2 separate regions of the Homo sapiens genome follow, and region 2 is linked to region 1. Evidence: fine-mapped expression QTL. Tissue or cell type: whole blood. Region 1 holds a variant in brackets; the other region holds the start of a gene. All regions are shown on one strand. Distances are between the middles of the regions. Region 1 holds the start of LOC124902174 (a long non-coding RNA gene). Region 2 holds the start of TMEM252 (transmembrane protein 252).

Region 1 (5,383 bases):
CTCTTCTCTAAATGAGGTGGAGGGGAGGATTCTATCAGAGCTATGAGGTGGTCTAACATGTTTTAGGAACTGCCATTTACTGAGATGGAGAAGAATGAAAGAAACAGCATGCTGGAGTTTGTTTTGGAGGAGTGCACAGGAGGCTGGCGGGAAATCAGTGTTGCACATGTCAAGTTGGTGATGTCTATAAGACATTCAGGTGGAATCCAATAAGCAACAGAAATAGAAGTCTAGAAGACAGAGATCGATGTGTGGAATGGTATTAAAAACAGGTGCTGCTCATTCTACAGTTTTAAAGAATTCAAGGTCCTGCTGCTAGCACTTCACAGTTCACCTAGCTCTTTGCTATTCAATGGGTGGCTCCTGGACCAGCAGCACAGTATTGCCTGGGAGCTTGTTAGAAATGCAAAATCTCTGGCCCTCCTCATACCTGAGTCAGAATCCACATTTTAACACATTCCCAAGGTGATTGGCCGGTAATTAGTTTGAGATGCACTTGTCTAATTAATATCATCTGGGAAATTTTTTAAAAACTACAGGTCCCACCTCAAAACAATTAAAGTAGAATCTCTAGGACTGGGGCCAAAGCATGGGTACTTTCACCAAGCTGCCTGAGTGGTTCTGATGTGCAGCCTGCCTGGGTTGAGAACCTCTGAGCTGACTCTTCTCATTTCTGTATGTTCCCTCTTTCCTTCCAGGTTTCATTGCTAGTTTTCTTAGAAAGCCATCTCCAAAGAGATGCGGTTCTAAGAGAGGATGCAGGCTGGTAGCTAGAGTAATCATGTCTCCTGGTTTATTGGGGACAATCTAAACATAATTACAATTATTATCTTTCGCTCACAAAAGTACAGATCCCCAACTTTGGCTGGATCGACTTAATGATTTTTCAACCTTATGATGGTGTGAAAGAGATACACATTCAGTAGAAACCATACTGTGAGTCCCCATACACCGATTTTTTCACTTTCAGTACAGTATTCATTTCATGAGATATTCAACACTTTATTATAAAATGGGGTTGTGTTAGATGATCTTCCCCAACCATAGGTTAATGTAAGTGTTCTGAGTTTGTTCAAGGTAGGCTAAGCTAAGCTGTGATGTTCTGCAGTCTAGGTGTATTCAATGCATTTTCAACTTATGATGGGTTTATTGGGGTGTAACCCTGTTGTAAATCTAGGAGCATCTGTATTCTGGTTTAGATGACAAATCATATGTTCTTCCTATGTAAAACAAAATGGCTCTATACTTTATTTCTGGATTACAAAGTCTTATTAAGAACAGGTAGAACAAAATGACAGATGACCTTTGGTTTGACAGGTGAATAAATATGAGGGACCTGGTTCTTAGGTATTAGTTGTTAAAGCCTTCTAGGTACAGTTTATCAAAAATACATACTTAAAGCCGGATGTGGTGGTTCACACCTGTAATCTCAGCACTTTGGGAGGCCGAGGCGGGTGGATCACTTGAGGTCAGGAGTTTGAGACCAGCCTGGCCAACATGGTAAAACCCTGTCCTTACTAAAAATACAAAATCAGCCAGGGATGGTGGCGGTCACCTGTAATCCCCGCTACTCGGGGGGCTGAGGCAGGAGAATCCCTTGAATCCAAGAGGTGGAGGTTACAGTGAGCTGAGATCATGCCACTGCACTTCAACCTGGGCCACAGAGTGAGACTTCCTCTCAAAAAACAAACAAACAAACAAACAAACAAATACTTAAATTCCTCAATTTTCAGGAAGACTGGGGGAAAATCAGGCCCCTCCCAAGGACTGGGGTGAGATCGGGTGTGACTGTATTCTGCCTTGAAAGTACTAAAGCCAAGGGTTGATTAGCCACGGGCTGATTATCAGTCTGTGATTTTCCTAGCCCTTAACAAAACTTCTCCTTCCTTTTCCTTTTGGATCTTCTATTGTTCCTTAACTACTCCACCCACAGGCTGAAAGGGACAAGGGAAGAAGGTCAACGAGAAGCTAATAATAGCAGCCCTGCTAATAAATTGGATGGGAAAGAAAACGGAAACAATTGTACTGTTTCTGGTTACCTGTGATTTTAAACCCTTTTGGCTCATTCCTTTTTCCAAATGATTACCAGCTGGTTTGAGGGCTCATTGAAGGCCTACTGATTGCTGGTAAAATTAAAATAAACTTGTATTTTAAAAAACTAGGTAGTCTTCCAGCAACAAGCCTTTGGAAGCTTTCCTTCCTGATTTACCAAGGACACAGAGTGGGATCAGGGCAAGAACCTGCCCATCTCATCAGGGCCCTCCCCGGCCCATCCTCTCCTTACCACCAATTCGTAGGCACATATGGATATAATTTTTAAAAAATATTTTTGATGTAGATAAGAAATTGATATTAACTTAAATAGCATAATCACTGTTCTACAAAAGGATGCAAATGGAAAATCTACATGTGAGTATGGTCTAAATGCATATAGATTATATCACAAGTTTTCCTAATTGCATCACTAGGATTGTTATGAGTATGTCTGCAAGGCAATCAGTGTAAATGCTTAAAACATGCTCTGTTCACATGTGTTCAAAATGTCTGGAAAAGAAACTATCCATGGCCAAAGTAAAATAGCCAGATATTAATAAGCCAGTTGAAGGGAACTCTCTGTTCTCTTGCAAAATAATTTAAGTGTAGATGGCTATTGGGTTAGAGTGGGTAAAACATCAAAAACTACCTGTTGAATTGGAACAAGATCAGCAATGGAATCTCTGCAGATTAGAGAAGGTGGAAGGGGTTCTTTTGGTAGCTGAGAAAGCAACACAAGCAGGTCTTTCCAGTCAGGCCCTGATCAGGAATAACACTAGCAGCTTCAGGAGTACATCTTACTTTTATCTCTGTTCAACAGTTAATCAAAGGCTTTTTAGAAGGCAGAAGCAGGTGGTCCTGGAAAGCAACCCTGTAAGGAGCCCTCAAAATGCTCCCACTTAAAGGCTTAGGTAGAGTTCAGCAGTAATTAAGACAGGTTGGCCTGCTGAGAGAATCTTCTTGCTTTCCCCTAGGTGGTTAGATTTCTTTTAAAATCTTACTCTATGTTATATCCTGACTCAAATGTATTATGCAATAGGGCTTAAGTTGGTGAGTCAATGATGTATGGTATTTTAACAAGGAGTTCTATTTTAATGTAAAACTTTTAGCTAGATCATGTGCTACATACTCGGGGGCCCATCGAGCCAGGTCTAGGAAAACTCTTGCTTCTGAGGAGAAGGGAGGGGAAATCAGAAATTCCAACAGCAACGTCAGTGAAGGGATTCGCCAACCCTTCAAAGTGGCAAATTCTTTCCACCAACAGGATGAGAAATGTGC[A/G]GTCATGGGGACCAAAACCAGCATGACTTATGTTTCCTTTACTCACATGACCTTCTAAGAGTAGGCTGATGGAGACTTTCAGCTTCAAAGGAAGCCTTGGGAAAAGAAAAAAAAAAAGCACTGCTTTTGTGGACTGCCTCAGGGAGAGACTCTTGTGTGTATAGGATTGTTGTGACACTTGTCTAATGGCCTGGTCTCAGTCCAGTGCGGAGGGTAAATAAAAATAAGCAAATATCACAGCCACTTGCCCTGTGCAAATAGGGAAAAGAATGTTGAGGAAAAAATAGCCCGGAGTCAGAGTGAGTCAGAGTTGGTGAGGCCAGGAATATCATTCCTCACGTACGTAGCTCTGGACTTTTAGGCCCCTGCTTTAATCTCCCTCCCCAACATGAGATGTAGAATAGTGTTTTATTTGGAAAGACAGGGTAAGCCCCAAATTCTTGCATGATTTGGTACTATCTTGGGAGAAATGTACGCACTAACCAATTATTTTGGCAGAGTGTGTCCCATCCCCTGCATGGAAAGGCTATGATCCTGAGAGGAAGAGCCAAGGGCTTCATGCTGGCCACCTGCTTTGCCCACTCATGCTCTTGGTAACCCTGAGAATAGCTCTCAGCCTCCTCCAGCCTCTCCTGTCCCATCTAGGATGATTTTACTCCAGACAGATCTTCTGGCTGTAGGGTCAGGTGTAAGGATCTGTAGCACCCATTATTGCCAAGTTCTTTGAGACTCTCCAAAGAAACAGACCATGAAAAAAACAAAACAAAACAAAACAAAACAAAAAAACCCCTAAACTACTGACAAAGAAAGAAAAGCCTGCCAGGTATCTTACTCCATCAGGGCAAATTATAGCTAGAAATTCTGAGCACCTCTAAAATGAGTAGCAGTGAGTATTTCTCTGTTTCTCTACTTTTCCACAAAGGAAGTATGGCAGGTAGAACCAATGTTTTCATCTGAAAAAATCATCTTATCAAGGACCTTGCTTCAAAACCCAGATTGAAGACACCAAGAAGACAGGAGCAGCCAGCTGTATAGCTTGAAGTACCCAACATTAAAGTGAGTCATTTCTGGTATTAATTAATGTTGGCTGGAGCTTTAATGAATGTGGGAGTGGAGAGGCTTATGGTTGTGTTATTTATGATTTTTCTGAGTTCTTAATTAGCCTTATTGTTGAAAACATGAGGAGACTTTGCCAAACAGTCTGGCTTAGCCTTGTCAATGTGCTTCCTTAACTTAAAAGGCCACCTATATCCTCTCCTCTCAGAGTGGACAATGTAGCAATCTCAGAGACAAAGCCCATCTGTATTGGCACCTCAAGGTCATGGTCCAAATGTCTGGAGATTCAAAAGTTACATAAGCGTAGTCAAGGCTCTGAGAGTTTCACCAGTTTGACTCTAACGCTAAATTTCCTTGTCTATAAAAGGTGCTTTTTCTTTACCCCAATTAACAAACCACTCAACAGTCAAGAGAGGACAGTTGTTTGGGAAATGCTGGTCTAAACGGATTACAAATAGATGCGAGAGAGCAATTTTTCTGTTTCAAACACTGTAATGAACGAATTAAACTTGCTTGGAGTTGCCCTGAGCTTGTCCTCCAGCTGAAATTATCATGTACCTTTCCAGGAGGTAAAATAGCCCCACTAAAGGCCCATGGAGCTCTCTAAATTTGCCAGGAGCTGCGAGACACACTGCTGGGAGCACAGCTGTTTCTGTACCTGTGGCTCCTGGTCATGGCCGCTGGGATCCCTCTCGTAGCTCTCTGCGTACAGTCTGAGGGTGGCCCGCACACCACTGGAGGAACTGAGCCGGAAGATGAGCCGTGATGCATCCGAGAAAATGATCCTTAGGCCCTGAGACCAAGAACATCCAGAATGGAGCAGTGAGCAAATGAATACACAAGTAATAATCATTAATACCTGCCACAGAAATCAGCATGTTTTTATACCTCAACACAATCAGAATCAAGACCATTTATATTGGCTCTGGATACAGGGCATGTAATGAATGTGATGAACCTACTTAGAGTTACCCATTTGTCTCTTTATTCTATTTCCGTTGCTTTGTGGTTAATG
Region 2 (5,383 bases), 39 kb before region 1:
CCATCACAACAACAACACTGCTGTGGAATGACAGGAGCCTCCTCAAAGGGCACTGGAGGGGAAGGAACTGTCTGACAAACTATAAGGCAATGGTTCTAGTGTACTTTATTGGCATGGAGGAGGAAAAAGTATAGAGAAACTTATTTACTCATGTGTTGATGTGATCACAAGAATGAGGCCTGACCTGTCATAATCCCCAGTCTAATTTCTGCCTCCATTTTTGTCTAAAACAGAGAAGCCCAACTGTCTGATGGGCAGTTCCGATTGAGAGTACTCTTCCTCCATCACCTGATTCTTAACATTATCCTGGGGCTTTACCATCTACCTGTTCCTGGGACCCAACTCCTAGTGCAGACCTTTCAGCTGGGGGTCCTGGGTCTTCCACAGATTTTTGGAATTGTAACAGCAATGATAATAACAATATTGGTGATGGTGATTATAGATAACCTTCACAGGGCACTCTCTGTGCCAGGTACTATGATAAATACTTAACATTGATTGTCTCTTCTGATTTTCAAAGTTCTAAGAGAATTTTTTTAGTTATCTACTGCTATCTAAAAAATGGCCACAAAACTTAGCATATTTTTAAAATATACTTTTTTTAAACTTTTGACCTCTTTTATTTGTTAAAATAGTGACATCCATAAACATGAAATGATTTGATCATAATGCATTCATTGATTATGGCTCTTGCCATCTTGTGGCATCCAGGACCCTGGCTGAAACGTTTTATCTCACAGTTTCTGTGGGTCAGGAATCCGAGTATGACTTACCTGGGTCCTCTACTTCAGGGTCACTGAGTCAAGGTGATGCTTGGGAGCAGAGTCATCTCAAGGCTCAGTGGGATGAGGATTTGATTGCAAGCTCACGTGGTCATTGACAGGATGCAGTTCCTCATGGGCTGACGGACTAAGGGCCTCAGTTCTTCAGTGACTGTTGGCCAGAACCTGCCCTCAATTCCTTGCCTCATGGGCCTCTCCAATATGGCAGCTTCCTTCTTCAAAGGGCGTAAGCCAAGAGGACAATAGAGAGAGTCTGCTAGAAAGATGAAAACCACAATCTTGTGTAGCCTCCACGGAAGTAACTTCCGATCACCGTTACCATATTCTATTGATTAGAATGAAGTCACTAGGTCCAGCCTACACTCAGGGGAGAGGATTACTTACACAAGGACATGAATATCAGGAGGTGGGATCCTTAGGGATCATCTTAGAAATATTCCATCTCACAGTTTGGGGAAGGAGGGAATAAGAGCTGTTTTAAGATTACAAAGACAATATCAAGACTAGAAGATCAAGGTAGTTCAAGGTCGAAATTGAAGCTAAGAAAGGTAAAGGCTAAGGGTTGGAATGGAGAAGTGCCTTATATAGTTTTTGATCCATAGTGTGTACCTCTCTAATATCCGTGTCTCCCAGCCCTAACATGAAGGTAGAGCTAAGGAGATGGTGAGTGTGAGACTAAAGGTTATATGAGGGATTATTAGGGCACGCCACAAAAAACTGCTGCTCTCATTGGGAAAGTAAATGGAAAATAATGGTAATGGAGTAGTGGAGTGGAACAGCAGCAAAGAGGAACTGAAGATAAGCTATCCTGAGTAAAAGCAACCCAGGGTTCCTATGGGAAGGAGACTTTTGGCAGAGACATGCCACATTATCAAATAAAAAAGGGCAGAGCCAGGGCATAAAGCACGTCTGAAATAAGCTATCCACAATCAAAGACAGTCAAGCTAAAGAAAACAAATTCCAGCCAGGAAACAGAAGGCTGGTTCTGGAAAGATTTTTTGAGGCAATGCTACATAGAGCAGAGGTGTGGAGGAGAGGACAGGGAACATTTTTAGCAGCATCCTCTAAAACGAATTCTATTTCATATGTACTTTATGAAAGGGGGAAAGATTGCAGGAATTACAGGCCCAAAATCCCCCCAAATTCCCGAGGCTCTGTCTATTATAGTCCTTTTCTCCAGCACTCTCCTTTCCCTCCCACTCAGGCTCTTTCGATCTTGTCAACAGAGCAGGAACCACGAAGTTCACACTCTGAACTTCTGTCTTGGAATTATGCCAGTATCATAGTGTGGGGGCAATAAGTGGGGATTCATTGAGGGAGGCAAGACAAACATGTTAACAGCCTTGAAGAAATGCCTTTTTAGTACAGAAAAAGGGAGAAGGAATCAGGAAGGGATTTCTTACCAAACCTCAAAGAAGATCGTTCTTTAAAGAGTGCTAACTTCTCCAGCTTTTAGTGGGGAATTGCCCTCCATGGGGATTAAGAGACCAGCGCCTTTTAATCAAAGGAGGGCTGTACGTTCAAATAACTGGGAACAGCTGAGTGTCCCACCCAACTCTGAAGAACAAAACAGCTACACGAAGCCACTCCTGCCTGCAGTATACAATGCTATGTTTTTTGGCTAATTCTCCAAGGATATTACACTTACTTTCAATGGTTAATGAATAGCTTCTAAGTGCCTGTTTCATTTAGTTGTCCAAAGGCCAGTGGGTCCCAGAGCATATAAAGCTGCAAGCTGGCTAATGAGCTCATTCTCTTGGAGCAAGCAGGGAAGCAGAGGAGCAGCAGGGTCAGGGTGCTGGGTTCCTAAGGTGCAAGGATGCAGAACAGAACTGGCCTCATTCTCTGTGCTCTTGCCCTCCTGATGGGTTTCCTGATGGTCTGCCTGGGGGCCTTCTTCATTTCCTGGGGCTCCATATTCGACTGTCAGGGGAGCCTGATTGCGGCCTATTTGCTTCTGCCTCTGGGGTTTGTGATCCTTCTGAGTGGAATTTTCTGGAGCAACTATCGCCAGGTGACTGAAAGCAAAGGAGTGTTGAGGCACATGCTCCGACAACACCTTGCTCATGGGGCCCTGCCCGTGGCCACAGTAGACAGGTACGTGCTGACAGGCAGAGGGACCAAGAAGGGCTGAGATGGGCTGAGTTGTGTAAGATCTGAGTAATTTCTGATCCTACTATGGAGCGACTTACATGTCCCATGGGCTGTCTGTCTAGAACCAAAGCTTTATTGTCAGGGAATTACTCTGGGGTTGTTATTAGGAAGAGTGGCGCCATCTTTGGGGAAAACCATGACGCAGGGGCAACTCATCTCAGAGAAACCCTACCACCACCCCCAGTGAAAACCCACCTAAGCCAATTTAGAAACCCAGGCTCTTTTGTTATATCATGGCAGCTGTCATTAATTAGTGGCAGGTGATGGTTAGTTACTTCCCATAACCTGGCTATGAGGTTCTAAGGAAAGCAAGTCCCAGACCAAATTCTGCCACACAACAAATGAAGAAGCAGGCATAAAATGAGTCCTGGAATCTCTGTGAGCTCAGAAAAGTCCCAGTTTACTGTCCTTTTAGGTGTTGTGATCTCACCTTGCATAAAACATTCCTTCAGGGGAAGGTGATAATATTCTAGAGGCAAGATTCATTCTTTCTCGCCATCTCATACATTAGGATAGTTATCATCAAAAAACAAAACCAAACAGCTAGTGTTGGTGAGGATGTCAATAAATTGGAACGCTGTGCATTGCTGGTGGGAATGTTAAAATGGTGCAACCACTGTGGAAAACAGTGTGGAGACTCCTCTATACATTAAATATTGAATTACTGTTTGATCTGGCAATTCTACATTCTGAGTTTATACACAAAGGAACTGAAAGCAGGGATTCAAATGGATGTTTGTACACCAATGCTTGTAGCAACATTTATTCATAATAGCCCAAATGTCCATCAACAGGTGAGTAGATAAACAAAATGTGGTATATACATGCAATGGAATATTAGCCTTAAAAAGGAAGGAAATCCTGGCACATGCCACCACTTGGATGAAGTTGAAAACATTATGCTAAGTGAAACAAGTCAGTTACAAAGGGCAAATATTGTATAATTCCACTTACATGAGTACTTAGCGTAGTCAAATTCACAGACACAGAAAGTAGAACAGTGGTCCCAGGGGCTGGTGGAAGGAGAGACTGGGGACCTATTGTTTAATGAGTAGAGAGTTTTAAGGTGATGGTTGTAGAGCAATATGAGTGTATTTAGTGCCACTGAGCTATACACTTAAAAACAGTAAATTTTATGTCATATATATTTTACCACAAGAAAAAAAAGATTCAGTTAATCTTATAGTCAGTATCAGGCAACAAGAAACCTCCTAATTCTTGGCTAGCCACAGGACCATTTAGGGATAACACCCTAGGCATCATTCTCAAGATACAGGCTACAAGACTATAATTATTTTGCCCTCTTCGTGCAAGAGTAGAAAGTATCTAAAATATTTTAGCTACTCCATGTATCTTGAATATAAGTAATCTTACCCATGAGCATCCACTTTTGGCATCCTTTATGCTAATTAATAAGATAATAATTATGAAAACCAAAACTTATTTCCAATGTTATACTAACCAGCAGAGTTTCTGGGTTTGATTAAAAATTAAGAGAAATGAAGTGATTGTAGAAGATGCCTCTAGAGTGATGATTTCTTTTTGTATAAATGTTAGAGGACTACCTCTAGAGTGTGAATTTCTGATAAATGTAACTGATTGCCTTTAGGATATAGCTTAAATTGACTAACACTGCATAATATTACAGTATACTGAAATGTTTGAAAGTAAATTATGGACATCGTAACACCCCCATTTTACTGCCTCTTCTCGCTGCATGTAATAAGATGCTTATCCCACGCAGAATGGCTGGCAAGTCAGCCTGGGAAGTCACATTTCTCCAAAGCATTTGCACTCAAAATGGATACCCAGGTTGAGATATCAAAGCAAATGGGTCTCCGATGATGGAATTCAGGGGACTGGGAATATGGATGGCAGTTGAAGGAGGGTGGGGTTGGGAGAGGTAGCTGGGATTTGGGGCAGGCAGCAGTCATCCTGGAACCTTTCACATCACTCCAGGGAACATCTCACCTTTCTGTGTAAAATGCCTTTACACATGTGCCCCGTGACTCAGCCTTGGCTATTCTGAGCGAAGGCTGAGATTTATGCCTTATAGTAGACAGCTTCTTCAGCTACTGGCTTTGGGCCTGGTAACATTTGGAATGGAGTTGTGGCTACAAATGGCAGTCCCTGTTCTGTTGTGGTTACACACCATAAACACTCCCTGTAGGCACTGGAAGGATCACTCTATAAATACACAACTCAGCCAAGCTCACCGGTCTCTCTTCCTCCCCTCTCCCCTTCCCCCAAATTCATTCATGATGGAGAAGCCAGGAGGATTTAGCAATTAGAAATGCCAGGCAAGATGACCAATGAGTACATCAGCCCCCGAATGAATGGCTGCTTTAGCCTACTGGCATAGAAAGGGCTACAACTGAAATCTGTGTAAAGTTGTCAGTTGATATCATTTGAGAAATGAATATGTTTGTATATTTTCTTTGAAACTA

Evidence for each region. PIP is the estimated chance that this variant, and not a neighbour inherited with it, causes the effect.
Region 2: it holds the start of TMEM252, and the variant in region 1 is the best candidate, but not a certain one, in a credible set for the expression of TMEM252 in whole blood (TOPMed, PIP 0.66).

The regions. Positions count from the first base shown.
Region 1 is chr9:68,499,005-68,504,387 of GRCh38, reverse strand. PGM5 (phosphoglucomutase 5) reads right to left here. Exons shown (of 11, transcript NM_021965.4): 10 at 5,027-5,161. It overlaps LOC124902174 (a long non-coding RNA gene), which reads left to right and starts at 3,704. Exons shown (of 2, transcript XR_007061565.1): 1 at 3,704-4,368; 2 at 4,935-5,383. The variant A/G (reference allele first, on the strand shown) is at 3,313.
Region 2 is chr9:68,538,033-68,543,415 of GRCh38, reverse strand. TMEM252 (transmembrane protein 252) reads left to right here and starts at 2,533. Exons shown (of 2, transcript NM_153237.2): 1 at 2,533-2,879. The coding sequence starts at 2,602. TMEM252-DT (TMEM252 divergent transcript) reads right to left here and starts at 2,391. Exons shown (of 5, transcript NR_187592.1): 1 at 2,186-2,391; 2 at 774-1,038.